Homo sapiens: one gene and its partners. The protein of the gene in region 3 interacts with the protein of the main gene of each other region in a pairwise test. Each region holds a gene or a part of one and is shown on either strand. Other genes may lie near its edges.

The links.
Region 1: the proteins of TMEM9 (region 3) and PGAP2 interact in binary tests that used the Homo sapiens proteins (3 or more experiments, as listed by UniProt).
Region 2: the proteins of TMEM9 (region 3) and SLC30A8 interact in binary tests that used the Homo sapiens proteins (3 or more experiments, as listed by UniProt).
Region 4: the proteins of TMEM9 (region 3) and CLDN10 interact in binary tests that used the Homo sapiens proteins (3 or more experiments, as listed by UniProt).

The regions. Positions count from the first base shown.
Region 1 is NC_000011.10:3,804,016-3,811,572, forward strand, and holds the start of PGAP2 (acyltransferase PGAP2), read left to right. Parts: upstream 1-4,544; 5' UTR 4,545-4,636; intron 4,637-7,149; exon of another isoform or gene 7,150-7,234; coding exon of another isoform or gene 7,235-7,244; coding exon 7,245-7,409; exon of another isoform or gene 7,410-7,541; intron 7,542-7,557.
Region 2 is NC_000008.11:117,130,861-117,137,995, reverse strand, and holds the start of SLC30A8 (proton-coupled zinc antiporter SLC30A8), read right to left. Parts: upstream 3,002-7,135; 5' UTR 2,669-3,001; coding exon 2,598-2,668; intron 1-2,597. UniProt on the Homo sapiens protein: Proton-coupled zinc ion antiporter mediating the entry of zinc into the lumen of pancreatic beta cell secretory granules, thereby regulating insulin secretion.
Region 3 is NC_000001.11:201,151,466-201,159,135, forward strand, and holds the start of TMEM9 (proton-transporting V-type ATPase complex assembly regulator TMEM9 isoform a precursor), read right to left. Parts: upstream 3,010-7,670; 5' UTR 2,459-3,009; coding exon 2,393-2,458; coding exon of another isoform or gene 2,318-2,392; intron 388-2,317; coding exon 296-387; intron 1-295. UniProt on the Homo sapiens protein: Transmembrane protein that binds to and facilitates the assembly of lysosomal proton-transporting V-type ATPase (v-ATPase), resulting in enhanced lysosomal acidification and trafficking.
Region 4 is NC_000013.11:95,555,711-95,562,733, reverse strand, and holds part of CLDN10 (claudin-10), read right to left. Parts: exon of another isoform or gene 6,810-7,023; intron 5,236-6,809; exon of another isoform or gene 5,156-5,235; coding exon of another isoform or gene 5,110-5,155; intron 2,603-5,109; coding exon 2,441-2,602; intron 2,353-2,440; coding exon 2,271-2,352; intron 1-2,270. UniProt on the Homo sapiens protein: Forms paracellular channels: polymerizes in tight junction strands with cation- and anion-selective channels through the strands, conveying epithelial permeability in a process known as paracellular tight junction permeability.

The DNA of each region.
Region 1 (7,557 bases), on a different chromosome or scaffold from region 3:
CCAGACCTCAGGCGATCCGCCTGCCTCAGCCTACCAAAGTGCTGGGATTACAGGCATGAGCCACCATGCCCAGCCCATTTTTCCCACTATACTAGTTTGAAAGTTAAATTCTCTTTTCCTATTAGTATTATTTTAGTGATCTCCCTAGAAATTACCACATGCATTCTTAACTTACCAAAGTGTCATGCTCATAAATACCTTTACGGAAGGATAGAGTTTCCTGAGATGGAGGCAGGAAGAGAGAACATTCCAAGCTAGATGAACAGGGAAGCAAGCAGATGAACAGGGGAAGATTTAATTGCTATCTGAGTCAGAGTGAGGCTAGAGCAAGATGAGTGAGCTGGGGGTGGGTGGTTTAAAGCCATCCAGGAAGGATGTCTTGGTCATGAAAAAGATCTTTGAGAAGAACAAGAATAACTCCTCCTCAACCCAGGAAGGACACTGATTTTCCTGAGGCTTCCCAGGAGGCAGTGGCAGAGCTTGGTCTAAAGCTGGATGTCTTTAGCAGTCTATGTCCCTGCCTCTATACCTACCCCAGCCATGCTCACTGTGTCCCCTTTCTAGCAATTCCTCAATCTCTGCTTACCTGTCTAAATACTGCCCATTCTTCAAAACCCAGTTCCATTAAATCAACCCAACAAATATTTTCTTTTTATTTTTGTATTTTGTATTTTTATTTTTAATTTGTATTTATTTATTTTTTTGAGGTGGAGTCTCGCTCTCTCACCCAGGCTGGAGTGCAGTGGCGCAATGTTGGCTCACTGCAACCTCCGCCTCCTGGGTTCAAGCAATTCTCCTGCTTTAGCCTCCCAAGTAGCTGGGATTACAGGCGCCCGCCACCAGGCCTGGCTAATTTTTGTATTTTTAGTAGAGATGTGGTTTTGTCACGTTGGCCAGACTGGTCTCGAACTCGTGACCTCAGGTGATCTGCTCACATCAGCCTTCCAAAGTGCTGGGATTACAGGCGTGAGCCACCGCACCCGGCCCAAGAACTCTTTTTATTTCTTTTATCTTCCCTCACATAAATCAAGGTAGGCGAGGTCTTTCAAACTGATAGTGAAATAAAGAGATTTCAGAAAGGGTCGGTGACAGCCAAGGTCAGACAATACAAAAAAAGTTCAGGACGAGTTCACACTGTGGCTGACATGTCTAATCATAATGACCATCATGTACTGAGTACCTCCCACATGGCTGGCACACTGCTACATTACCTCTAATACAACAACCCTATGATGTGGATATTCTTTTTTTTTTTTTTTTTTTTGAGACTGGGTCTTGCTCTGTCACTCAGGCTGTTGTGGAGTGGTATGATCTCAGTTGACTGCAACCTCTGCCTCCAGGGTTCAAGCAATCCTCCCACCTCAGCCTCCTGAGTAGCTGGGAATACAAGTGTGTGCCACCACACCCAGCTAGTTTTCTGTATTTTTTGGTACAGATGCTGTTGCCATGTTGCCTAGGCTGGTCTTGAACTCCTGGGCTCAAGTGATCCTCCTGCCTTGGCCTCCCAAAGTGCTGGGATTACAGGTGTAAGCCACCACACCCAGTGTGGATATTCCTAAATCAATTTTACAGGCTGGGCACGGTGGCTCATGCCTGTAATCCCAGCACTTTGGGAGGCCAAGGAAGGAGGATCGCTTGAGCCTAGGAGTTCAAGACCAGCCTGGGCAAGACAGTGAGACCTTTTTTTTTTGAGACACGGTCTTGCTCTGTCTTCAGGCTGGAGTGCAGTGGCGCGATCTCGGCTCACTGCAACCTCTGCCTCCCAGGTTCAGGTGATTCTCCTGCCTCAGCCTCCCAAGTAGCTGGGACTACAGGTGCGCGCCATCACGCCTAGCTAATTTTTGTATTTTTAGTAGAGACAGGGTTTCACCATGTTGGCTAGGATTGTCTCGATCTCTTGACCTTGTGATCCGCCCACCTTGGCCTCCCAAAGTGCTGGGATTACAGATGTGAGCCACCACGCCCCCGCGAGACCTTGTTTTAAATAAATAAATAAAACCATTTTATAGACGAGGAAACAGAGGCTCAGGGCTATATGGAGAATTGCCCATATTTCCCAAATCACCAGAGAATTAAAGAATTAATCTAAATTAGAGCACCTCAAGGTTTGGGCATTGGGGGTAGTCTAGAGGCAGGGAGAGGGGACCCAGCCTCAGGGAATGGTACTTAGGGCCAAGAGAACAGACAAGGTGTCAAGATAGGGAACAATAGCCAGGAGCAGACACCCCTGGTTGGAGCTAGACAAAGAGGATGACATGAAGCCCCAAGGCAGAAAACCTGAATCTAGTTGCCAAATTTGGAGAGAGGTAGTTCTTTTTGTAAAGTTTTGCTAGTCCATTTGTCCTGGGACCTTAAAGAACAGGATAGGGGAGAACTCAAAATCAAGAAAAGTAGTTTTTAGAACAAGACACTCTGAGTGCGCACCTTCTCCAGACTTCGGAGCCCCTCAGAGTGCGTCTGAGGTATCTCTGGGTCCTCCACCATTGCTCCACATGAGGCCTGTCAAAGAGAGGGCCTAGACTGGGTGAATGAACAAAAGTGAACACATGAAAAAGAGCTCTGGCAAATTAATCAACAAATGCTAAGTGGCATTAACAGCATATAGTGGATTATGTGAATTATCTCAGGTACCAGACTTGAGTCCTGGTTCTGGCATGTATTAGCTGTGTAAGTAGGTAACTTGGTTTCCCTGTTTTCCATTGTAAAATGAGGATATTAAATAGTATCTACTGGCGGAGGCTCATGCCTGTAATCCCAGCACTTTGGGAGGCCAAGGCAGGTGGATCACCTGAGGTCAGGAATTCGAGACCAGCCTGACCAATATGGCGAAACCCCATCTCTACTAAAAGTACAAAAATTAGCCGGGCATGGTGGTGCCGCCTGTATTCCCAGCTACCCGGGAGGCTGAGATAGGAGAATTGCTTGAACCCGGGAGGTGGAGGTTGCAGTGAGCCGAGATCGTGGCACTGCACTCTAGCCTGGGTGACAGAGTGAGACTCTGTCTCCAAAAAAAAAGAGAGAAAGAAAGAAAAAAAAAAGGCCAGGCGCGGTGGCTTACACCTGTAATCCCAGCTCTTTGGGAAGCCAAGGCGGGGGCAGATCACGAGGTCAGGAGTTTGACACCAGCCTGGCCAAAATGGCAAAACCTCGCCTCTACTAAAAACTACAAAAATTAGCTGGGCGCAGTAGCGGGCGCCTGTTAATTCCAGCTACTCGGGAGGCTGAGGCAGGAGAATCGCTTGAACCCTGGAAGCGGAGGTTGCAGTGAGCCGAGATCGTATCTATTTTCACAGGTTTTTTTTTTTTTTTTTAATGGAGTTTCGCTCTTGTCGCCCATGCTTGAGTGCAGTGGTACGATCTCAGCTCACTGCAACCTCTGCCTCCCGGGTTCAAGCGATTCTCCTGCCTCAGCCTCCCAAGTAGCTGGGATTACGGGCGCCCGCCACCGTGCCCGGCTAATTTTTGTATTTTTAGTAGAGACGGGGTTTCGCCATGTTGGCCAGGCTGGTGTCAAACTCCTGACCTCAGGTGATCCGCCCGCCTCGGCCTCCTAAAGTGCTGGGATTACAGGCGTGAGCTACCGCGCCTGGCCCTCACAGGGTTTTTATGAGGATTAAATAAATGAGATAAGAAGTAAGAGTGCCTGGGATATACTGGGTGTTCAGAATGTGTTATTGCTGTGAGGATTTAAGTGGAAAAGTGCGATGTTAGGTATGGCTAACTTAGAGGTCCTCCACCCGCTGCAGATGCTCTGACTACCCACCAGTGTGCTTGCAGGAGGAATTCTTGGTCCCTTCACCCTCCTTCCCTGTTGGGCTGGGATGGTCTTTGCAAAGGGAGCCAGGGGTCCCCCTCAAGTTCTTTCATGGGTCAGTCATGGTCAGGGTAGGGAGGGAACTCTGGCAGCTGGTTTTGGGGGATCAATCCTCTCATTGTGGGGAGACCCAAGGCTGGTGGCTGGAAATCCTTTCTGCGCTACGTAGGACAGGGCGCCCTCTCCTGAACAAAGGCGGGAACAGCTCTAGGCCAGAGTTTCTGGGATGTGCCTCACCGGGTCTCACTGCCTGCAAAGGTGCTCTTCCCATTGCTGAAATGTCCCCAACCGCCCTGACGAGCAAAGTTTGGGGGAGGGGCGCCAGGGCTGGGAGGAAACTGGCTTAATGTTTCAGAAGGGCGAGGCTGGATAGTTCGGTTAGAATGGAGGTGCGAGGCAGGAGAGACGGGCGGATGAGAAAGAAATCCGGCCCCTGTTGAATTAATTTTGTGTTCTTTCAACAGGTAGATGGAACGCAGCTGAGAGGTAAGGCGACAAGGTGGCTTATCCAACATGCTCAAACTCAGGTATCCAGAGCTCTTCCGGCTGCCCTCACGCAGCCGAAATTAGTGGGGGCAGACCCGGGCTGTAAAGCATGGTTTGAGGACACGCCAGATTGAGGAGGAGAGCCAGGGGTCGGGGTCTCCAGAAGCGGGGAGGAGCCAGCGGAGGATCTGGGCGCAGTTTCCTCTCTAAGTTCCGCCCCGAGAGCGCCGGCCCCGCCCCCGCCGTTCGCGCTCTGACCAGCCCGCAGAGCCAGCCCCCGACCCCGGGCCACCTGGGCCCCCGGGTTCCGCCGGCACTCTCGCCACCACCGCGTGGGTGAGTATGGGCATGGATGTGCTGGGCTGCCGGGCAGCCCCACTCGGGAGCTTGGCCGCGCGGTCTGGCCTCTGCAGGGCCGGGCCCCACGCTGTGGGAGTCCTGGTACCTGCCGTCCTATCGCACACACTCTGTTTCCCAGGAACTGCTGCTCTCTGGACTTGCCGAGCTGGCCCCCTTCTTCTCCCTCCCCAGCGTGGGGCCGGGTGTGCAGGGGTTGAGCTCTCCCTTTATTCCGCGGGGCCTCCTGGTCAGGAGTCCTAGGTGGGGAGGATGGGGCCCCGGGGTTGGAACCCCATAGAGTAGTTTTGAATGGCAGCTGTGCCATTTATTAGCCTTGGCCTTGAGTAAGTGTTTTGAACCTCCCTGAGCCTCAGTTTCCTCATCTGTAAAATGGAAATATACAGGCTGTAGCACCTACCTCATAGAATTATGGTGAGATTAAAAGAGACAATGTATATCAAGTACAGAGCAGGGGGCCTAGTATTCCGTAGGCACTCAGTAAATGTGGGTTCAGACTCGAGGCTGAGGAGATCTCTAGGGACTTTGGAGCTGAGGTAGCTCCAAAGAAAGCAATTTTCAGCTAAGTAGTACCTGTGAGGAATGTAGAACTATCTGCAGGCTGAACAATTGCCCTTCAGCTCCACCCTGAGGTGTGGAGTAGAATGACCAAGTTGGAAGGACCTTAGAGGTAATCTAAACCATGTGATTCCCATGTTGCAGAACTGTGGAAACAGATCTAGAGTGCTTAAGTGGCTTGCCAAAGGTCACACAGCTAAATGGGAGGCCAGGCATACCTCCAAGAATTGGAATGGATTATCCCTTGAACCTCCTCATCAACTCCTGATTTGGGCAGTGCCTCTTCATTCCCTGAAGATCTAGTCTTCAATTTGGGAATCCTAGTGGTTCCTCAGGGATCTAGAGCTGCAGCCTTCAGGGAGGGATACTGGGAGGGAAGACTAGTGCTACTGCAACTGCAGAGTCTAGGTTTGGGCTGGGTGAGGAAAATGTTCCCCATCTAGGGCCCTAAGGGACTTAGAGTCCATTTAGGGATGATCCAGGGAATGTGTTTTTTTTCTGGGAGGGTCACCAGAGCCACTTCCAGCTCCCTGGGATCCCTGATGCTCCTAAAAGGGAGAGAGGAACTTGAGCAATTGGAGCAGGCTGCCTGATCAGGTCTGGCAGCTGGGGGAAAATGGGTGAGAATGTGGAGGCGTAGCCACCTGGCTTGTTCTGGAATGCCAGGATGGCAACCTAACTGAGATCAGGGTTCTTTTTGAGGGTGGGACTAAAGGGAGAGTCTTGTGGGTGGGGTCAGGAAGAGTTGGGACTTGATTTGACAAGGTCTTTGAGCCCAGAAGGGTATATTCTTTATGTGTCTGGAGCCAGCCCTAGCTTGGCAACAACAAGCCAACGTTCCAGGGATGGCTTTCCCTTCAGCTCAGCACAGGGCTTTGAGGAAGAGCCAGCCCTTCTCTCTCTCTGAGTGTCTTGGTTTCTCTATCTTTACAATGGGAATAGGGCTAACTGCCTCATCTATGTAGATTTTGGTTTTTCCTTTTCTTCCTCCTGTGAACAGGTGCCTCTTCTGCCTCTCTCACTCCAGTCCTAACCTGACCTTTCTCAAGTTCAGACACAGAGAGGAAGGGGTCAAGGAAGGCCAGAGTTGCAGTGTGTAACTCTTCGTGGGTCCCACATGTATCTCTTTGTTATGTGATCCTGAGCAGATTCCTGCTCCAACTTTCCCTTCTGTATACTGTGCGGAGCTGGGCTAGGATTGTTGGTATACACTTATTTGTTATAGTTCCTGACCTTAGCTACCCTTATCTAAGGGGGAAATCACAGCCCCCAGGAACCCTCATCTGTTCACAGGAGGGTGATGTGGACAGCCCCCTGGGCACTGGGAAGCCTCCAGAAGCTGACCAAGCAGCTCTCTCCAGCAAACAGCAATCCCAGGCTAGCACCAGGCCTGATTCTGCAAAGCCTTTCACCCTGGGGGCACGTGAGGGAGCAGGCTGGGACAAGCAGGGGGCTTGGGGTTCTGTCAGCTTCCATGGAATCCCTGCCACTGTGGACTGCGGTGCAGGCACACAGAGCCTGGGAAGGGACTGAAGGTGCAGGAGGGCCCTGGGCCAGTGGGGAAGCAAATGAGAGCTGATGAGAGGCCTTGAAGCCTGGAGGCTGGGCCGAGGCTCAAAGGCCTGGGGGAGGAGATGGGCCATGCCATCCACTGGTAGGTTTTAGGGTTGGTTCTTGAAATAAAGAGAGACACTTATTTAAAGCAGCTTCTCTAGTCCTAGGCCTGTCAAGCTAGGCAGAGAGGAGTGAGGAGAAGCTCTCCCAGTCCATTCAAGCTTTATCCTAGCACAGATTTGGTTCATTGTCTTCCCTCTGAAATTGAGGTGGAATGTTGTCTTGGGATTCTGAGTCAGTCTTCCTCATCCAGGGCAAGAGCTATCCAAGTTTAGGTGCCTTCCTCCTCAGACTCCCCACCCCACAGCACACAGCTAATTTTAGGACTGAGCACAAGGGCTGACTTTATCACTGAGTGCCAGCCTGGCTGCCTGGGGCCCTGACAGCATGCCACTCCATCCCCAGGTCTGACAAGATGTACCAGGTCCCACTACCACTGGATCGGGATGGGACCCTGGTACGGCTCCGCTTCACCATGGTGGCCCTGGTCACGGTCTGCTGTCCACTTGTCGCCTTCCTCTTCTGCATCCTCTGGTCCCTGCTCTTCCACTTCAAGGAGACAACGGCCACACACTGTGGGGTAGGGCATGGGGACACTGATACCTCATATTCAGGCCGATCTGGATCTTCTTTAGATCTTGAATATCTTTTAACAAGATTAGCCAGCTCTCCACTGGGGCCCATCAAACATACGGGGCTGCTGGGGGGATGCCTGCAAATTGAAATCT
Region 2 (7,135 bases), on a different chromosome or scaffold from region 3:
TAAAAAAATATGGTTCATGGCACCTACTGGGTCCAATATTACTACTTCCTGTGGTAAAATGCCTGTAAAGATTACCTCCAGCAATTCCTGTCATCCAATATGCACATGCAATCAAGAGATAGAATCTATTGCCTCACCCATGGAATCTGAGACTTGGGACTTGCTTTAACCCATAAATTGTGATAAAAATGATACTGTGCCAGTTCTGGGCTTAAGCTATCTGAGAATGGTCAGCTTCCACTATTGCTCTCTTGCTACTCTGGACTGTCACATAAGGAATTCCAGGCTAACCAGATAAAGTGAGACATCATACAGGGAGAGAAGCCATGGGAAGAAGAATTAAGACCCCCGCCCCAGGCAAAAGCCAACACAAAGATCTCAGTCATGTGAGTGAAGCCATCTTAAACCTTCTAGCCTAGCCCAGATACCAGCAGAATGCAGCCTTCTATTCCAACTAATTCACATGGAATGCTGCCCAAATCCTGACCCAGAGAATCGTAATAAAATAGTTGTTGTTTAAGCCACTACATCTTGGGGTAGTTTGTTGCACAGCCATAGATAAATGGAACACTCCATTTGTGGAATTAGATAATAAAGTTTTCTTCAGAGTAAGTTTCTTAACAGCCAGTAACCATTTAAATAGAAAGCTGATAATAGAAAGTAGAAAGAAAAAGAGGTAGAAGGAGAAAAGAGGAGGAATATCAGGGGATAAAGTTATCCACAACTAATAGAGACAGAACAAAATAAATGAGATAGATTGGTAGAGGTGGGGGAAGAAGTGAGTAAGTGAGGGAATTCAGGGACATGTGACCTAAGGAGGAGATAGATTAAGGATTCAGGAGCCCACATGGTGCATGTATGGGTACAGGAGATGTAGACGGAGAAGGGGAACACTAAATTAACAAGAAGGGGGCCTGGGTCCACAGCCCAGTTCTGTTGTAATTAGCCATCTGCCCTCAAGAAACACATTTATTCTGACCTCAAGAAAGGCATTTGTTCTATCTGGCATTCAGTTTCCTACATGGTAAAATGAGGGATCGAGATAAATAATCTCTTCCAGATTTAATTTATTTCCCTTGACAAGAAAATACAAATGAGTTTGACAATTCTTATAAACACTGTGTCCTGAAAACCATACCTATTTATGGGGTGAATGAGACTTTGTAACTATAAGTGGTTGGCTTATTTGTGCAACAAAATGCTAATAGTCTATGTTAATAAGAAGGGAAATATTGTTATTTCAGTAATGTGGAGATGCTCTATTGATAGTATCCATAGGGTTAACAATTTTTTGTCCAAAACTTCTGCCTGACTTACCACAAGGCTTTGTTTTTTATGTTAATAACCTCAATACATCATATCTAATATTATTTTCTAAGAAAAATAATTCTTCTAATGTGAGATTGCTAGATTCTTTGTTTTAAGCCAAGTTATAAATATCCTTTTTATAAAATCTCTTTGCTGTTACTAAAATATTTGATGCTCCCAAACATAGTATCACTACTCCTTAGAATATTAGTTTGGCTTTGTGAAACAAACAAGAACATTACACGTATTATTAATGGGCAAGTATTCTCTTAAATTCTTCTTCTAACATCAATTCTTTTCAGATTTTCATTAGCTCATTTATATTCACTGAATGTGTTCCTTTTTTGAACCCCATTCAGATTCAACTCCTCAAACAAACCAAGCTCACATTCTTATGTATGTGAAAGTATATTTACTGTGCAATTATCGAAGTCTGGGAAACTTTCCTTAAAACTATTTTCTATGTAGGTTATCCCTAACCCTACTTTAATTCCTTTTTATTTTTAGCTCTTAGCCTATTACTTCTGAGAAAGCTTCCTCTGATTCCAAAGTCCAGTTATTCTTATTGAACACCCTCAATATGACACAAATACACTGTTTTGTAATTGCCTAGTTCTAATATGTATTTCACATTAGACTAAGTTTCAAGAGGACAAAGATCTGAAACTAGACATTTTTTTCTTTCTCATTATAAGTTCTGCACTTACTACAGGTGTGTTCAATCAATAATTGTTAACCAAGTGAAAAATGAATGAATGTATTGCATGTGACACTGTGGGAGACATTAAAAAGAAATGGAATACTTTGTAGAACATTAAAATCAGCTATATTTGTTATAGGTATGTATATTAATAATGATACTTTATAAGCATGAAAACAACAGCTCATTTTAAGATCAATACAACCACAATTTTGCCATGTAGCTGAAGTCTTAACTTTTTCTAAATATAATATAATAAAATTTACTATCTATCTTAAAATTGAGAATAATTGAGAAAAGGAAAAGTAAACAGATTATATAGGTCTATTTTCTGGAATAAACATGACAGATGAAAAACACATCAGTAAAATGTGTTCTTTATGCACTTAGGATATTTAAGGAATCAAATCAACTATATAAAGTATTGCATTTTTCAGAATATAAAATACATGTCAGTCAACAACTTATAAAATGTTCCAGAGTGCCCCCAAGTTGCAGAGTAAAGGCCTACAATTCAGAAGCAACAAGGTATAGGAATTGGATGATATTCAACAGAGAAAATTGTGAAGCAGACACAGACATCTATTACCTTTCTAGTGTGAAAGCATACATCTTGGCAGCTTTATCATTCACAAGATACGTTCTTTCAAGAAACTCCATGACGGCCAGGATGAGCTGCGGCTGTTGTTGTCGTTGTTGTTGAACTCACTGCCCAGTTTTGGAAGCAAAGCAGCACTGCAATTATTTATACACTTTCTAAAGAAAAAATTAAAAGGCTCCAGAAATTAAAATAATGAGCTTCCTACATCAGTGTTGTTGGTAGGTCTGCTAAAATTACAGCCTCCTTGCAATATTACCTGGCTTCATTGTTTTCACCTACAAAAACTGCTTTTCTAGGGAGACTTGCAGGTAGCATTACATGAAGTGTGTATGTCTTTCATATGATATCTGATTCAATTGTGCTTTCTAAGAGGTAGAGGAGCTCAAGAGCTTGCTACAAATTGCTGATGTAGGGTTTTGACCTTCGGAGCACACGTGGGTGAGCTGCAAATAGCTACCATTCGCTACACTAAACTAATTCTTTCTTTTTCTCTCCCTCCTCCTTTTTCTGGACTCTTTATCAGCCTAAAATTATTTCTTTGGAATTTAGTTCTAAGATGACCTCTAAGCAGCTGTCAGAATTTACTTGTCTCTCCTAGGACCATTTTGGGATTTCACTATTGAAAGGGAGGACAAGGGTCAATAGTTTCTGAAACCAGTAATCTGAAAACAGTTCTTGGTACAGCAGCTTTGAAATCCTTTTGATTGGCAAGAGAAGGACAGACTCTGCTTCTACGTAAATAACAGCCCTCCAAAATACAAGAACCAGAGTGAGCTTTGTTCTTCCTGGCCAAGGTACCCTCTACTAAGGATCAAGGATTCACCCAAGGAAACCCTATCAGGCATGCCAGTTCCAGCTCCGAGGAAGGAAGCCTCTGAGTTGCTCCTGGGAGACCTCACACTCCTCAACTCCTAGGAATCAGCATTTTACTTCATACAAAGCACTTTCCTTCCCAAATAAGAGAAAGAACTATAGCCTTATGGCAAGAGCCTGGACAAACAGTAGGCATTTGTGTGTGGGCAAAAGGTTTCAAGACCTATAAAGATGTACACAACGGTAGAGAAAGAGGGGGTTGTGCAGACTGGAGAACAGGAGTAAACCCCAGACCACCAGGTTCTTGTTGCCTTTTCCTTGTGTGAACACTAACTTTCTAGTGAGAAAACTCAGAGTAGTTAAGTCCCAGAATAACCCAGTGGCCCAGAGTCACGGGAAGTTGCCCATTATGCTGAGCTGAGATCTCTCACAATGGCCTAATAAAATGAATATTGTGCTCTAAAAGGAGGATGGGGTTCAATGCCAATTGTCATAGGCAGTGACAGGAGAAGTCACCTTTGGTTCAGAATGAGACTATTAGGTCTCCTATCACATCTGTGGTGTAGCTGTACCTCTTATTATCTTAAGATTTCAAACACTCTCATCTATAACATAAATTCTAAGGTCTTCTCATATGACCCCACTCTTACTGATCCTTAACTTTGCTCACACAGTTTGGAGCCTCTAAGAGGCTCTGGGGGAGCCTTTTCCTTGCAAGTGAAGGCATTGAAATCCTGGGTCTACTGTTAGCAGAATAAAAACCAATGTATTTTTTCTCGTATATTCTTACTCTTAACCTTACAAAGTAATCAGTTATTCTGTGGAGGCGAAAGTAGAAAACCAGAAAAGAATTACTAATCCACCTGTGTGACACACTGCCATATGTCACAGCTTGAATCATTTGTGAATAGTTTCTAGCACAGACAAGAGAAATAGAATTCAAGTGAATGAATGTCAGAAAATGAGGAAACTACTTTAAATCAGCCTGAAATTCATTAAGGGTGAGTACAAAAAAAAGAGATAAGCAATATTTTCAAATCAGGAAGGAGAATATTTGGCTATAGATATCAACAGGAAATAAACAATCTGGAAGTTTGAGATTCCTCCATGCGAACTTTGCCTCTAGTACAAATACGGATGTACAGATCTATTTATAATTGACATACATACATACATAATTGACATATAATTTATAATGAGTGTGAAGGATACATGCCAGGTAGTTAATGTGGATTGCCTATGGGGCAAGAATAAAGTGAGAGTAGGATGGGGTTGATGTAGGACAGGGAAAAGTGAAGATGGGAAAAGAGACAATGAGAGACCCAAGCAAAACAACAAAAAATACTGCTACCCCCTGTCAAAAATGTATCCTATGATCTCTTCTATTTGTCTATAAGATAAACTATATAAGTCCTATGTGGTCTAATATCAGCAATTTTATATGGTTCAACTTAAATATACATGCACACATATATAGATACCTAAAATATATGTGTGGATATGTATGTTACATTTACTAATAAAAATGTACATATTTATAAAGTACTAGGAAATTAATTATGATTTTCATCAAAGATTTATGAATCCCAAAAGTTACTCTTGAAGATGATTACCATAAAGCAAAGCTTCCAGTGTGAGTAGCATAAGAACAGAGAACAGTAGATTACAGCAAATAAAATTATGCTTAAAAAGTTTTGCTGCCATAAATTTAGATGCAGATGTTATGATCAAGAATTGCATATTATATCATGTAAAATATGCATCTGCTGATCACCTTATTCTCTTACAAGTTCATTTTAACTGCACCGTCATTCCCTCTCTCAAATATTTTGTCATCACAACATTTATGAAAAATCTCTCATCCTCCCTGACAAACCTTTGGTCTACTTTGGCATGAACTGCCCACCAAGGGCCAACGGCCTAACTGGGCTCCACAAGCAGCATAGAATATATATTTGGAAAGCAACTTGGATCAAAAAGGAAAATCCCATCCCCTGTAGACATTGGTTTTAGTGGGCATTACGCTGCTCATTTCAGTTTCCTAGGCAACCAGCTTCCAAACCATCCCGAATTACAGGTTGTCTTCTCCGCCCACTCTCCTTCACAAGCTTGGAGTAACTGAATGGGAAACACACAATCTATAACAGCTACCTGTGGAAATAAGTATTCTGTCAGCCACAAGAACATCACCAACATCACTGAAGAACTGGTTTGGCTCTTCAGTCCTAGCTGTTGTCAGCAACAATTTCTTAATAGGGTGTTACAAACAGTAGCTAATACTTGTGCAAAAATAATTTCACAAGTATCTTAAACATTGTTGGATATTTCACTTGTAGAAAGGACATATGGATTTATAAAAAGCTACCATCATTATCCCTAGATACTAAAGTACCAAGTACTTACAATTTGTGTTCCCCATATTTAAACTCGTATTTCAGAAATACTTCATGTTGCCAATGTGTGCATGCAACCATCTTTTTAAATCAGACATAGAAATGTGCCTGTTTTTAAATAACAAATGTGGACTTTCATCATGTTTTGCTTTTTCCTGTTGGTGTGGAGAGGTAGTGTGGTGAAGTGGTTTAATATATGGGTTTTCAAGTTAGTTAGGTAGACAATTTTAGTTTCCAGTTTGACCACTTTCTTAGATATGTGACCTTGAACAAGTTGCCTGACCACTGTGTTTTTCCGTTTCTCACCTGTAAAATGGGAGTATTAATCGAATCCATCTTACAGAGTTCTTGTGAAGAGGAAAACAGATAATATGTATAAAAGTTCTTAGCATAGTCTCTGATATATAACCAGTTTTATGTAACTGTGAGTTTCTATACACTGGGCCATGTCTAAGTAAAATGTTTTGGCTATTGCTGAGAAATTGGCTCCAGCTTTAGCAGAAGGCTAAGAATTACCTGTGAATGAAGCATCCATCAAGGAAATAAAGGTTATTGAAAAAGGAAGATCTGGGGACTTCAGCTATCGGCTCTATGACTTTGGGTAGATCTCTCAAACCCTCTGGACTCTACTTTCTCAAATTAGATTGATGTCTGCCTCATTCTACCCCCTCACCAGTAGAGTGCCATTCAGAATGATCTTCACTATGGAGCTGTCTTCCACAACAGGGGAGGCAATTCAAACTCAACCAGTGTAATCACCCACTAAAGATTCTGGACTCATGCATTCTCACATAACTATAAAGATCTTATTATTTCTAAGTTGAGTAGTATTTTCTTAGCAAGGTAGCTTTATGGTTATTACTACAGTGTGAGTATTTCAGAGGTTTCATCTAGAAATGTGAAAACAAAGACATTAGAAATTTAATTGGATTGTATTTTAGAGAGCATTATGAAAATTTTATTTTAATCTAAAGTAAATATGTATAAAACACAAACCATTTCCAATATTTTATACACTGCTTGAAAATGGACCGAAAGCAATATGATGTTTATTTCCTTCTTGATAAATTAGGACCATGTAATTTTTTTTACTATTTCTATTTTTCAAGCGATTGAGCTATAGGAATGTTCTGGTGAAAATGCAATTTGTATTTGTTAAGAATAGAAAGACTTGATAAAATATTGATACTAAAAGAATAAAAGAAATATTTTATTAAGTCTCATAGATGCAAATAAATGACAGAAAAATGAACTAGCATTATTTTTGGGGGGAGAAATATTGGGGCTAGCTGCTTGAAGTGTTTATGAAGTGTATATTTC
Region 3 (7,670 bases):
GCCAACTTCTCTACTACTATTCTGTATGCATCACTAAAGACCAATATTCAAAGCAAAACAACAAAATCCACTCCTCTAGCCAGGGACCACTCAGCTGGAATTCAGACACCTGGATCCTGTTTCCACAGACAGTTGACAACTATGAAATTGGTTCTGTGACATGAATAATTACTCCTTTGAAAGGCTCTCCATAGGAATGGGAGAGCATGCTTATCCTCCAGGGTCCAAGAACTCTAGTAAACACCCATAACTTCAACTGGGTATAGCAGCCAGGGGCCTGCGTGTAATGCCTTACCAGTCCTTCTGGGATACATTCTGGTTGTAAATGTGCCCACTGATGTTTCTATAAGGTGGACAGATGCATTTGCACCGGATATCTTCAGAACTCTGGAAAAGAAAGCACATGTCAAGTATGCAGAGACCCTGCCTGGGGTTCAGGGGGTTCAGGCTCTAGCAAGGTTGTCAACTTTCTGTTCCCCATCCTGTTAGGTGAACCATATCTATGCTCTTGAGCTTTCTCCATCCCCAAGTTCAAATCCAGCAAGGACTGCCACTGTAGGAAGCAAGCTGCAGCACCGGGTCCTAAAGATAGAAAAATGTCCAGATGGCAAATGAGACTCACAGAAAGTTGTCTAGGCCTGCCAGTCCCAAAGCAGGTACTTAGAGGAATGCGGGGAGAGGGATGAGGGGAAATGGGTGTGTGTGTGTGTGTGTGTGTGTGTCCTCTACCCCAGACCCCACACTTGTGTGTGCACCTCTGTCCAGTGGACTTGGCAGCCACCCTCTTCCCCACATTCCTTCTCCAACTTCTTAGGTAGGATTGGGGAAACATAAAGGGCGAGGGTGAATAAGAAAAAGTGGATCATTTCTGTGGGAATACTCAAGCAACCCCTTTGAAAGTTCTTCCCTTCTGGAATGAGTAAGAGATATCACCATAAATGTCTTTACTAATTAGGATTTCTGAGGAGAGAATGGAAACAAACTCTCAGCCTTAACCTTACTTCAAAGTCTGGATGATCTTTAGTTCCATAGATCTACCCAAACAGCTCCACAGGAATGTAGCAATAAAGAATGGAAGTTATCTCAGGAGTCCCAGAACTTAGGTGGGTCACCCTTAATAATGGAAACTTCAAACTGTATAGGACTTTACACTTACAGGGCATTTTTACATTGTCATGTAATTTGATTCTCCCTAAGCAGAGTAATAGATACAACTGCTACTACAGGTGGTAGTACTAGCACCCCTAAAACAAAAATTCGAAATGCTCCCAATCTAAAACTTGTTAAGCACAGACATGACCACAAAGATGATGTTAACATTGCAGAAAAGCACCTACAGACATGGTAACAATGAGTGACGGGCTTCTTGAAAGACTATAGCAGAGCGCATTCATAACAGAACAAGAAATCGTGTCAGTCTATAAAATCAAAGAGACTTCTAAGACAAAAGCTTGTTAATGAATCAGGTGACTGGCAAAAACATTTTTAAAAGCCATCTGGCAGAATGCCTCCTCATCTCTAGAGGACCCACTTTCTGGTCCCTCTACTGCTTCAGATACTACTTCTCACCTAAAAAAATACTGTGCACAGTAACCTTTAATCAAAACACAGCATCACAGCAGGAGACAGAAAGCCTTATGTTGCTGTGTCTAACAGCTGATACAGGTATTCTGGTGATGCTACTGTGCTTAGTTACCCTGAACACATCATTTATTTTCACTGTGTTAATAGTACATCATATTTTTTTACCGTTAAGAACTTATGTGTAACGTAAGAAAATATTTATCGGTAGCATATAAATTCATTGTCAGGAATGGTGGTGATGCCAACCAACCAGACTATCCACATGGGTGCCTGAGATAGTGACGCCTTTGCTTTCTGATGGTTCAGTGTAGATAAACTTTGTTTCATGCACACAATTATTGAAAATATTGTATAAAATTACCTTCGGGCTATGTATATACAGCATATATGAAACATAAACGAACTTCAGGTTTAGACTTAGGTCCCCTCCCCAAGATAGCTCATTTTTTATGTGCAAATACTCCCAAATCCAAAAATATCTGAAACAAAACATACTTTGGTCCAAAGCAAAGGAAGGTATGGAGAACTTAGATAACTTCTCCAAACTTCCTTGCTGGAAGTCCACCACTGATCTGTCTGATCAGAGTGAGCCAGTGCTCTGTGCCCCACCCTTCCTCACTCCTCACCCGCACTATCCTTAGGGAGGCCAGCAGCCTTGAACCTGAAGGAAGACCACTAAAAGAAGTATGGCCCATAGGTGAGTGAGAGGCAGGCTTAAGGAGCAGCTGGCTACCTCTGAGTCAGCCCTGTAGACAGGGTGGCCGTGCACTGTGGTCGTGACCAGGTGCTGCAGGCTCACCTCCCTCACCTTGTTGGCTTCAGCTGGGGGCACCAGCAAACACCCGACCACAGCCACCAAAGATAAGAGCTTCATGCTTATCAGGCTTGCTGGGCCAGCAAAGCCGGACACCTGGAAAAAGAGATACGGAGTCGGAGAAGGGGAAGGTGGCCACACCGCAGCCAGCACGCTAGGCCCTTAACCATCCGGCCAAGTGGGAATGGGGTTGGGGGCTGGGCTCCAGGATTCCAAGGCCTGCTAAACCTGGTCGCCAAACCCTGCTTCCCTCCCGCCCAACTCTCCGGCTCTCCGCCAGCCACCTGGTGAGCCCGGCAGAGGGGTCCTCGAGGGGACACCGCTGCCAGGGGCCTCCAGTTCCTTCTCAAGGCCCGGCTCTGACCCGCGCATCACGTCCCACCGCCCTCCGCCATCTCCGCCTCTGCCCGCCCCGCAGCTCCTCCCCGCTCGGGCCCGACGGGAACTTTTGGGTGCGAGTCTGGGACCCCTGCTCCGACGGCGAAGGCCGGTGCCCACCACGCCCAGAGGTCTTAAGCCGGACTGGGACCCCCAATAGCCCCGCGACCCCCGTCCCCTCCCCCAATGCCGCGTCCACGAACCTACAAGCCCGCTGCAGCCGCAAAAGACCCAGTTGTCCCCGCCCTCTCCTAGCTTCTATTGGTTGCCAGAGCAGCCCCTTAACCCGACCGCGCTGTCGCCATGGCAACAAGACCCGCCTTCACCTGGGCGGGGAGACTCTTGCGCAAGGGAGAGGCGGGCATTTCTCAAACCCGACCAAACCAGAAAAGGGAACGTCAGCCTTCCAAACTCCTGGGGAAGGGTCTTGCCTTTGTGTGGCCTGAGAACTCCCACTGCGGTGCTTCTCCCTTCCTTGTATTATAAAACTCAGCTTGTTTCATCTTGCTGTTTTAGAAAGAAAGCGCTTTATACACTGTAAGCTAGTAACGTCAACAAAAACGATACGAGATTGAAGGGCTTTGTCCTCATTCAAAATCTGGAAATGTTATTTAGGGATCCACGTCTTTGCTGCAGAAGACTTTCTGCGCGGCAACGTCTCTACCCCTACACACACCTCTGAGAAGGAGAAATCTAGGGTTGGCGATGGGTGGTGTGGGCTGGGCCTGTGAAGAGTGTGCACAACAGCGTCCTCAGCCTGATCCCCCTACCCCATGCTGGTGCTGGGCCTGGCAAAATGGGGCAAAGTGTGCATGGCCAGGATGCAGGGGTGAGGGTCCCTGGCTGCTATGTGGCAGATGTGAACTTCTTGCCAGCTGTGAAGGAAAGGGGAGTCATATGAATTCAGGGCACCAGACCCGGAGTGAGGACACCGGGGCTTTGGCCCTGGCGCTCCCCCTAAGCAGCTGTGTTAGCCTGGAAAAGATACCTCCCTTCTCTGGGCCTCAGCTTCCCTTACTTCCCTTATCTGTAAAATGATTCGGTTGGATTCTAAGATCCCCTTCAGCTTTGATATGTTGGGATTCCTTAGGGGTGGGTGGGAGGGGTATCAATATGGCCCAAACTTGAGGTTGGTGGCTGGATTAGCATAGGGGCTGGGTCCAGGTGGAATCAAGCCCCTCGCAGGCCCTGTGAACTGAGGTGGGCACTTATCTGGAGGCCACTGAGTTTGTGTTCCTCTCTCCTATGCTTATGTCTTATTCCTCTTTATATCCTTGCCACCTGGCAGAGTGACCTGTGTTTGGTAGGTGCTCAGGAAGTGTTTGCTAAACTGAATTCTATAGAATTAAATTAAATCTAGTTGGCAGGGGGCAGGGGCAGGAGGCCTGCAGTGTGATGCAAAGGTCAGGGGCTTTGGAGCTAGAGTGACCAGGGCAGGAATCCTGGTTCCTCCCTTCCTAGTTGTGTGAATTTGGGTGGTTTCCTTTAGGACACCGCCTTTGGATCTTTGGAAGTCTTTGGAATCCTTTCAGAAGTCTCGGTTTCCATGCCCATAAAATGGGATTAATATTACCAAATTTTCAAGGTGGTTGTAGGGATATAATGAGTTTACATATGCAAAGCACCTAGAACAGCATCTGACACAAAGAGGGAGGCTCTATAAATGGCAATGTTAGCTCATTGTGGAGGTCAGAATGGCTGCTTTGGTGAGCAAGCTCAGGCAGAGACAGAATGCCTACCTCGTGGGGGCAGAAGGGATAGTTCAAGTACTGGAAAAAGACACTTCTTCCCCCCATATACGTTCCATATGAAGGTGGGACTTTCATGGGGACAAAAGCATGGGGCTGAGTCTGTCACCTCCAATGGATGACCCTCTGACACACAACACTAAAGATACCCAATGCTGAGCTCACCATCTTCCTCATCAAACAGAAGGGAGGCCTTCCACTGTCATTCTGCATTTCTGCAGGTCCTAGATTGTGGCATCAAACTATCTTTGACTCCTCTCTCATATTTCCACATCTTGTCTATCCAGGTGTCCCCAGGAGGTAGCTATCATCACCCTGCCTGTATCTTTCCTCGGCTAGCATTCTGCTCCCTGAAATGCACTCCCTTCCTGTGTGCTCCTAGGTCCATCCTGTCTTCCTCCAATTCTGTTTTCAGCACATCGCTCATTGCTCAATCCCTGGTAGCAAGCACCCTGTTGCATCCAATTCAGACCCCTCCACTTGGCAACCAAGCCAAGTGGTTACCATTTCTGCACTTCCCCACCCCATCTCATCACTGGTTACTCCCCCCACCGGCTGTCCCTATATCTGACTTTGCTCATTGCAGTCCTCCATAGGACATTATCACCCCCAGCACTGCCAGTCGTTATCTTTCATCTTATTCAAATCTTTGCCCAAGCATTTGCCTTGCAGAAGCTTTTCCCAAATAGTCCTACCTGACCCAGGGCACCTCATTCCCATACATCCTCCATGTGCCCTGTGTTTATGAGCCATGCCAGTGAAGTGAGTCTGAACCTATTCATTAAATTTAATTCCATAAACATGTGCCAAGCACTATCTGTGAGCCAAACTCCAGGGCTCACAGATGCTAGGTACCCCAGGGATACAACAGACAAATCACATGCAACTCTGCTTTCAAGTAATGCACAACCTAATAGCAGACCAATCACATGGTCAGAATGTAACATAGAAAGTGATGTGTTGTAGAAGTGAAGCAGCCTTGTTGTCTGTGGTGACACTTGAGGTTTGTTGTCTCCTGGCCATGAAGATCAAGGAGGTAGACACACAAAGAGTGAGGTTAAGAGTGGAAATTTAATAGGTGAAAGAAAGACAATAGCTCTCTGCTACAGAGAGGGGTCCTGGAAAAATGAGTTGCCAATTTAAGGTGAAATGCAGGGGGTTTTATAGATGAGCTAGTGGGGAGGCAGTATCTCATCTATACAGGGCATCTCAAAAAAAGTTAGCACCAGGTGTGCCATCTGCATAGGGCACAAATCTCTGGCAGCTCCCAGCCCAATCTTTATTATGCAGGTGGTTTCTCTGCCTGAGCTTCTCCATGTTGCCCAGTTCTTTCTTACTGTACATGTGCTAACAAAAAAGGGAAGGTGGAGTCCCATGGTGAACATGCCTGGCCCCCCGGTAGCCCTTTTCTATGAGTGCAGCTGCCAGCATTCCTCCGTGCAAGCTTCCAGCTTCCTTATATATGTTTGCAGCCCAATCTTTGAGGCTGCTCTGTGTTAGAAAAGAAATGATTTCTAGGGCTGCTTCTTATTAGAAGGGAAGTTCTGCCAAGGACTTTTTTGTCCTTGCTATCTGCCTAAATAATTTCTATCTCCCGTATCAGAAATGCTTTTTCCCTTCAAAAATTTTTTGAGCACTGTGCTAGGTGCTGGGGATATCTCAGTAAACAAGACAAACCCTGTCCCTGTTCCCACAGAACTTGAAGTTTATTGCAAGAAAACCACAAATCAACAAGCAATGACAATTCAGGGTGGTAAGAGCTGTGCTGGGGGAAGGCTGCAGAGGCACTTGGGAAACCTAGACCAAGGGCCAGGGGAGCCCAGAATGGTGGAGAGGGGGCTTTGAGGGCAGTGAGGGCTACTTGGGCTGGGCCAGAGTGGTGGGCAGAACAATGTCGCACCCCCAAATGTCCACATCCTAATCCCTGGAACTTGTGAATACTGTCTTACACAGTAAAAGGCACTTTGCAAATATAAATTAAGGCCCTTGGTTGGGGAGAGTGGCTTGGATTATTCAGGTGGGCCCAATCTAATTAGATGGCTCCTTAACAGAGGAACCTTTTCTGGCTGTGGTTAGAGAAGGAGATGGACATGGAAGTAGGGTCAGAGAGATGCTATGCTGCTGGCTTCAAAGATGCAGGCAGGGGGCCACCAGGCAAGGACTGTGGGTGCTGCAGAAGCTGGTCAAGGCCAGCCAATGCATTCTTCCCTAGAGCTTCTAGAAGGAATGCAGCCCTGTAGACACCCTGATTTTAGTTCAAGAGAACACCTCCGTCAGACTTATGGCCTACAGAGCTGTCAGATAATACATTCGTGTTGTTTGAAGCCACCAGGTTTATGGTAATTTGTGACAGCAGCCATGGGAAACAAATACTGCCAGGAAGGGTGGGCAAAATTTGAGGCACAATTCAAGAGCAGGGTGATGGTGAGGAGGGCATTCTGGTGGGGGGTGGGGGCGGGGGCAGGGGCAGTGTAGGGAGAGCAAAGAGATGGGACTGGGGAAGTTCAGGGAGAGACATGTAGAGAAAGAGTCAACAGTTCAGTTTGTCTTGATCCCAGGACAAGCGAATGGGAAAGGAAGGCAGGGAGCTCAGTGACATCAGAGTCAGAATGTGAGCCAGGAGGGAGCCGGGAGCCCCTGGCTCGGGGCTCAGTGAGAGGGTGGAGACCAGGTAACATCAGCAGTGCACTCTCCCCAGCAGAGGAGGCCTAAGGAAGCTCTGGAGCCTTCCACTGCTTCCTCTCAGGACTTAGCCTTCATCCTGCCTCCAAGTTTGGAGCTCTAGAACTCAGGCCAAAACCCATACCCTCTAGTTCATACCTGCTTTTATCCAACAACCCTAAAATCAGTTTGACTTTATGAGGCGAGGTCTTGGCATCCGTGCCACAGCTGTGGGTCTGGGTTCTTCCTCACTCCCTGTCCCTACCGTTGGTGCTCCTGGATAGGGGATGAGTGCTGTCATCACTCCCAAATGGTGTCTACTCTCCCTGGCATCAACTATATGCCCCTGCTTTTCCTCTAATCCCCACTGAAGCTTATCTGTCCAGTGTCTCATAACCTCAAGCTCCTATGAGATGATTGACTTCCTAATTTTTGCATTAGCAACCATGTCTTAGACACACTAAAAGATCATCCAACCTAAACAG
Region 4 (7,023 bases), on a different chromosome or scaffold from region 3:
AGAAATGTGTTTAATAAAATAAACCATGAGAAGTACAGGTTTGCTGCATATTTATGATATCAAACCCTAAAATAAAAATGTATCATTTAAATACAATATTTCTTTTAAATATCATTAAAATATTTCTAAGCTTCAGAAATACAGCCTTGGTTTTTATTTCAATGTTTCCTGCCATGTACATCTGTGCAAATCTCATTTGAAAGATAAGTAGGAGAAAATTAATAAATTAGGACATGTTTTTGTATTATAGGCAGGGGATAAAAAAGTTATATTGAGGTCTAAAACCCATTTAATAAAATTTGTTTTTCTTTCCCATTTAATAACATTTCTGAATAAAAACTATTTTTAAATGTATAGAAAAGGCTGGGCATGGTGGCTTATGCCTGTAATCCCAGTGCTTTGGGAGGCTGAGGGAGGAGGATCATTGAAGATCAGGAGCTGGAGACAACTCTGGGCAACATAGCAAGACCTGTCTCCGTTAAAAAATGTAAAAATTATCCGGGGCCGGGCGCAGTGGCTCACACCTGTAATCCCAGCACTTCGGGAGGCTGAGGCGGGTGGATCACCTGAGGTCAGGAGTTCGAGACCAGCCTGGCCAAAATGGTGAAGCCCTGTCCCTACTAAAAATACAAAAAAATTAGCTGGGCATGGTGGTGCGTGCCTGTAATCCCAGCTACTAAGGAGGCTGAGGCAAGAGAATCACTTGACCCTGGGAGATGGAGGTTGCAGTGAGTCGAGATCGCACCACTGCACTCCAGCTTGGGCAACAAGAGCGAAAACTCCATCTCAAAAAAAAAAAAAAAATTATCTGGTTGTGGTGGCACATATATGTCCCAGCTACTCGGGGGGCTGAGGTGGGAGGATCACTTGAGTGCAGAAGCGCAAGGCTGCAGTCAACTAAGATCACACCACCACACTCCAGCCTGAGTGACAGAAAGAGGCCCTAACTCTTAAAAAAAAAAAAAAAAAGGACGAAAGAAACCTCTTGATGAACAGTACATGTAGCATATTGTCACAAAAATTACAAAATAGTGGAATATTAGAAATCATGCTTTTTAAGAGCCAGTGTTCTGAAGTTCAACTGCCTGGTTTGAATCCCAGTTCAATCAGCCTACTAGTTTGGTCCAAGTTCCCTTGAACACATCACTTGGCCTCTTTCCTCAATTTAAAAAAAGAGTACCAAGAGGACCTACTTTATAAGGTTGTTTGTAAGAATAAAATAAAATAACACAATAAAATAATATTTGCAGTGCTCTGCTTGGCTCCTGGTGGGGACTCAACATGCGCTAGCTATTATTTTCATTTTATTTCATGATATAAGCATTTACTGTTTATGCGTAAGGTACACTTAAGCCAGAACTAGAAAATCAATTTCCTGAAGATTCCTAAAACCACCAGAAAAAAAGTAAAGCCCAGCTGACCAGCTATTTCAGTAATATACTTCTTAAAAATTCTATAAAATTTGACCTGAAGTCTAAAATAAAATTACCAGCCTCATTGATAGCAATACACACACACGTACGTGAGGCTTCCTAAAGAGGGATGTAGATACATTCTTAGGTAAGACAAAATATTTAATATATTAATTCTGATTTGGTATCCCTGGGGTTTTCCCAATCCAAAGAAATAAGCCTAGGGAAACTATAAAAAGCAACAGCCCATAGTTTAAAAACAACACCAACAAGCAAACTGATCTGTTAATTCCAAAGCATTCATCTGCAAGACTGACCAGCCACATTTGGGTAAAGGTGCCGTGCTCCTACAGCATTTTTCAAAAACCTTGCATCGTATACAGTTTCTTTATAAAGGTTTATTAGGAGGAGCTTGTTAAGACAGTAGTTAATACAGCAAATTTAAAAGACCCAGAAACTAGCATCTGGCAAATATCATTTTGAGTGGGCAACAATCAAGGCAAGGTTTTAATTTTCTATTCGCACACCGCATCATTCTTTCCTCTCCGTCTGACACCTTTCACGTTTCCTCTACTTGACCTCAGTTTCATGATGTACAGCAAACGATGAAGTTTATAGTTCTAAATTTGATGCCTTGAACTGTTTCGAGACAAGACACTGCAACACTAGCAAACTAATTAAATGCATATTTTGCGTATGTGGCATATGACACATTTAATCTTGAATGATGTCATCAGTTACCATTTATCAGTATGTCTTACTTTCAAAAGTCATATAGGAAATTCATGTCTCTTGGTTGAGAATATTAATTTATATACACTTCCTGTGAGCTGGAAACAGACTGAGAAGAGTACTTACTTTTGCTCAACAAAGAGAGGATCAAAGAATTCCGTTGTGATTTTGTTTGCATATAGGGAACATCCAGTCATTGAGCACAGCCCTAACAAATATTAGAGGGAAAGCACTATGGTTAGTGTGATTTCATTAACATCATCAAGTACCTTGTTTGGAAGAAAGTTACTATTTACCTGACAGTATGAATACAATCCCAGCCAAACAAGCAATTTTAGCTTTGGCTTTATCGGAGCCTCCGACTTTGGTACACTTCATTCCAAAGAGCGCAAATATGGAACCAAAGAAGCCCAGGCTGACAGCAGCGATCATAAGTCCTCTACATGCCTGTATATAACCTGCAATTAGAGTAGGTCATTTACGTTACATAAAGCATGTGGCTGTCCAGGGAGAAATCCTCATTTTACGTTGTCATTCTGGATGTTTGTTTTCCAAAAAGATAACTGTGATGGTGAAAACATGTGGCAAGACAAGCAAGAAAGGAAAGCAAGTTAATCTACAGGGAGTGCCTATTCTAGGTCACACACTGTGAAGTGCGGTTTATGGGGAATCCTCAGGATAGATCTGAGTGTTATTTCCATATTCACCAGTGAGGAAACTGAGGCACACAAAGGTTATGTGACTTACCAGAGGTGAGTTAGAAAGTGGCAGACATGGATTCCATCCCAAATCAGACTACGAATTCCATATAGTGAAATTCCACAGTGAAAGGTGCCTTTCACTGTGAAAAAACATCATCTGCCACCATCACAACTCTGTAGCTCCTCCGCTCATTGGACTTTAAAAGGGTGTTTTAATGGTTTTGACATTATCAAATGATAAGATTTATAACTGGGTGGCAGAAAGAGATCCAAAGGGTCAAACCTTCCAATATTAGTGGACGCTTATTAATAGCAGACTAACTGGAATATCATCATGAACCATGGGGGGTCTAAGGGAATACTTTAGTGAAGTACTATTGTTTTCAGGGTGTATATAATAAAACTGGGTTTTAAAAAGCACTATTTTGTAGAAGAGTAATTTATAGTGATTAAGTCAACTGTTCTTTTATAAATGAATGCCTTTAAAGTACCCTAACGAGTATGTTCTGTCAGTTCGTTTGTTCATCCTTCCTGTGCTATTCATGTTCTTAGTCATGTATTTTTATTTGCACAGCCAGGGTACACGGTAAACTTCAGTGTGGCTTTTGTCCAGGTTTTTACATTAACAGGGTTTAAACTAATAAGCTTTTACCACATAAGCCATTTTCATTTCAGCCTGAAACAATGCCATATTTCGATCTAAAATAGTGATAGTAGCACATACCGGGTGTAAGTAAGTATCTGCTAAGCAAATAAACATATATACCTACATCAGGTTTACGTTTGGAATTAAACTTTTTAACTGGAAAAAACCTCTTATGTGTCAATATATGATAAGTCATTTATTATTGGTGTTCAAGCAGAGCCATGATAAATAATAATTCCGAGACCATGATAATCATGAATTTAGGGAGTACATACTAGTGGCCTCCAGTTCAGTTTCTTTTTTTCTTTTCTTTTTTTAACACAGGATCTCACTTTTGCCACCCAGGCTGGAGGGAAGTGGCATAATCATAGCTCACTGCAGCCTCAAATTCCTGGGTTCAAGAGATCCTCCTGCCTTAGCCTTCTGAGTAGCTGAAACCATAGGCGCTTGCCCCCACCTATGGCTAATTTTTAAATTTTTATAGAGACAGTGTCTCGCTGTAATGCCCAGATTAGTCTCGAATTCCTGGCCTCAAGCGATCCTCTTGCCTTGGCCTCCCAAAATGCTGGGCTTAAAGGCATGAGCCACTGCACCTGGCCCCAGTCTGTGTTTCTTTGGAAAAGAATGAAATTGAAGTTTTAATCCTATTCCTTGGACCCATTTTTGAAGAGCAAACAGGAGCTGCTCTACTTAATTGTAAACACTTTAGACTCCCACAAATGCAGACTGCAAGGACAGTGACCTTCCATTGTGTAGTGTGAAATATTTCCATACAGAAAACAATTTCACTAACACCGTGGCTATCAAAAACAGCAAAACAAACTTATTTTTAGCAAAACAGGATAATGAAGGCTTCTTTCATAGCAATCATTGTGCTGCAGGGCTATCTGGGTCTCCGCTGCCAAATGCTGAACCAGCTGTATTTTAAACTTCAGTCCTCGAGCTCCCCAGCCAGAGCCCAGACAGCAGGTAGAGGCAAGACAGAGAGGGGAAGCCTGTCAGTCCCTTGCAAGTTTGAAGAGAGCCTGTGAGGATAACCCAAACTGGTTCATCACTTGCCACCAGGGCTACTCGGACAGTGTGGTTTCGCTCTTTTTGTGAAATTCATTTTAATCTATGGTTTTGAGGTTTTATAGCTGACTCTGACTGCAGTCATTAAATAAACAAAAAAATGGGGGACTCATCCATTTATATATACTCCCAGAAAACATTAGCATGTACCCTAATTTGCATTGCCTTTAGTTACTTCCATGCTTTGTTAACAGAAAGTGCAAGTTGTCGGGAATTTACCAAAGGTTAAATTCTACAATCTGGTCATTTAGAACGCGGAATGCATTTCCCAGATGATAAACAGTGGGTAGAATCCCAGGCCAACCCATTCGATTCTTAATACAACAGGGAAAATAACAGTAGTCTTTGAACTTTATGTAATCACCACTGATAACATTTTTCCCGAGTTTCTCACTCTGAGATGCCCCGTCCCAGCCCTGGTATTGGCAGCAGGACCCACTTTGGTCTCTTGACACAAGCATGAGAGGAGAAGTGGGCAGGGCAGATTCTGATCTGGTCAGGTCCTTCTTTTGTGCCAACCAGAACCCGGATTTGGAAAATGAGGTACCTTTCTCCAGCATGAACAGCAGCCATAACTTGTTAATTTTGCGCATGCACAAAGAAGGCAATTTACAAGGACGATCATTGGCCAGATTTTCTGAAATGGAGAGCAAAGAGCAGGGGATAAACTCCCCTGCCAGCCATAAATGTAATGGAGTTGCTCGTAAGCCTGAGATTTGTAAATTCTCAGTGTTCTAAGGCTACCAGTCCTTACAACACCCACAGATTGGAGCCAAGATGATTCCAACAAACCCTTTCAGAGTTCATCTTTTGCAAAGCAGACCTCTACAGCCTTGCTTTCTAACAGTTCCTGAGGGCAAAACTTACAAGTAACACCACCAGGAGAAGTGTTAGTAAAAACCTAGTCAAGGAGGCCATTATTTTTGACAGGTCTAATTTACTGACACTGTTAATAGCTAATTAACACATTAAGGTGCTGAGGCATGAACATATTTATTTAGAAGTTCTCTGAAGTATAATTTATAGTTAGTTCTCCTGGGAGAAATGGCAAGCATTCCCACTAGCAAAAATAGATGGCATACACTAAAAACAAGCTGGCTGAAAATCATACTCAGCTGAAGTTCAAGTGGTACTTTGAAAGGAGTATGGGTTAACAATAAACAGAAATCACAAGCTCATTCAGCTGTGAAATTTTCAAATAGTAAAATACAGTGACTTTAAATTAATGAACTCTGTTGGAGGAAAGCTTCAAGGTGTTCCTTAAAAGTTAAGTGTTTTCCAAATTATGTGTACTTTATTTTCAATTGCAAATCAGCAAAAAACGAAAACATCCACTTGGTGGAGACAATTCGCTAATAGCACCTGTGCTAGTTGATGGATTTAGGGGGGAAAAAAGAATGTGCTTTTCTTTTCCTGGTAGCTTTGTGTACTTCTGCAAATCCTTTGAGAGAACAGTGGTATGGGGAGGGCAGGAACTCTGAGTTTCACCTCTGGTGCTTCTATTTACCCAAGGTATGTACTTGGTTATAGGACCTAATCTCTTTGAGGCTCAGTTCTCTCATCTGTAAAACAGGGATGGCAGCACCTCCTTCACAGGATGAATAATATGGATGTCTGCTGAGCAGTAAGAAAGTCATCAAAGCATCCCGTCATATTATAATACTACAATGGATTCTAAGCAGAAATTAGAGCTGGGTTCTTAATATGGCATAACGTTAAATCTAGACATATAGCTTTGCTAGGCCTCATTTTTCTTATAAGGAAAACAAGTGGCAATGATACCCCTAGGGGAGGGGAATCAGAGATTTCTTTATATAAGAAATTTAGGGCTGGGCGCATGGCTCATGCCTGTAATCCCAGCACTTTGAGAGGCAGAGGCGGGCAGATCACTTGAGGTCAGGAGTTCAAGACCAGCCTGGCCAACATGGTGAAACCCTGTCTCTACTAAAAATACAAAAATCAGCCAGGTGTGGCAGTGGGTGCCTGTAATCCCAGCTACTCAGGAGGCTGAGGCAGGAGAATTGCTTGAACCCGGGAGGTGGAAGTTGCAGTGAGCAGAGATCATGCCATGGCACTCTGTCCTGGGGGACAGAGTGAAACTTTGTCTCAAAAAAAAAAAGAAAAGAAATTCAGAATAATGACCTCGTCGTTTGACTCCAAGAGTTCTTCTACCTAACACAAGATAGGCAAGAGTCACGAGCCTTCTCTCTCCCTTCCTGGATTCTCTTCCCAATCTAGAGCTCATACCTGGGTTTAAGGGGAGGGCTGTTCCACTCAGGCCACCATGGCCACTTTCTCCAAAGGCAATGTCAGGACCAGCACCCACCAGATGTGGCTGACCTGGGAATGCAAGGTAGAGGACAAACAGAGGGCCCCTACCCTGGAAGCTTCCACTTGCAGGTGGGGGAATCAACTCCCCTCCACAGGAAAACACAGTTGCATGATTTAACCCTCCAAGATG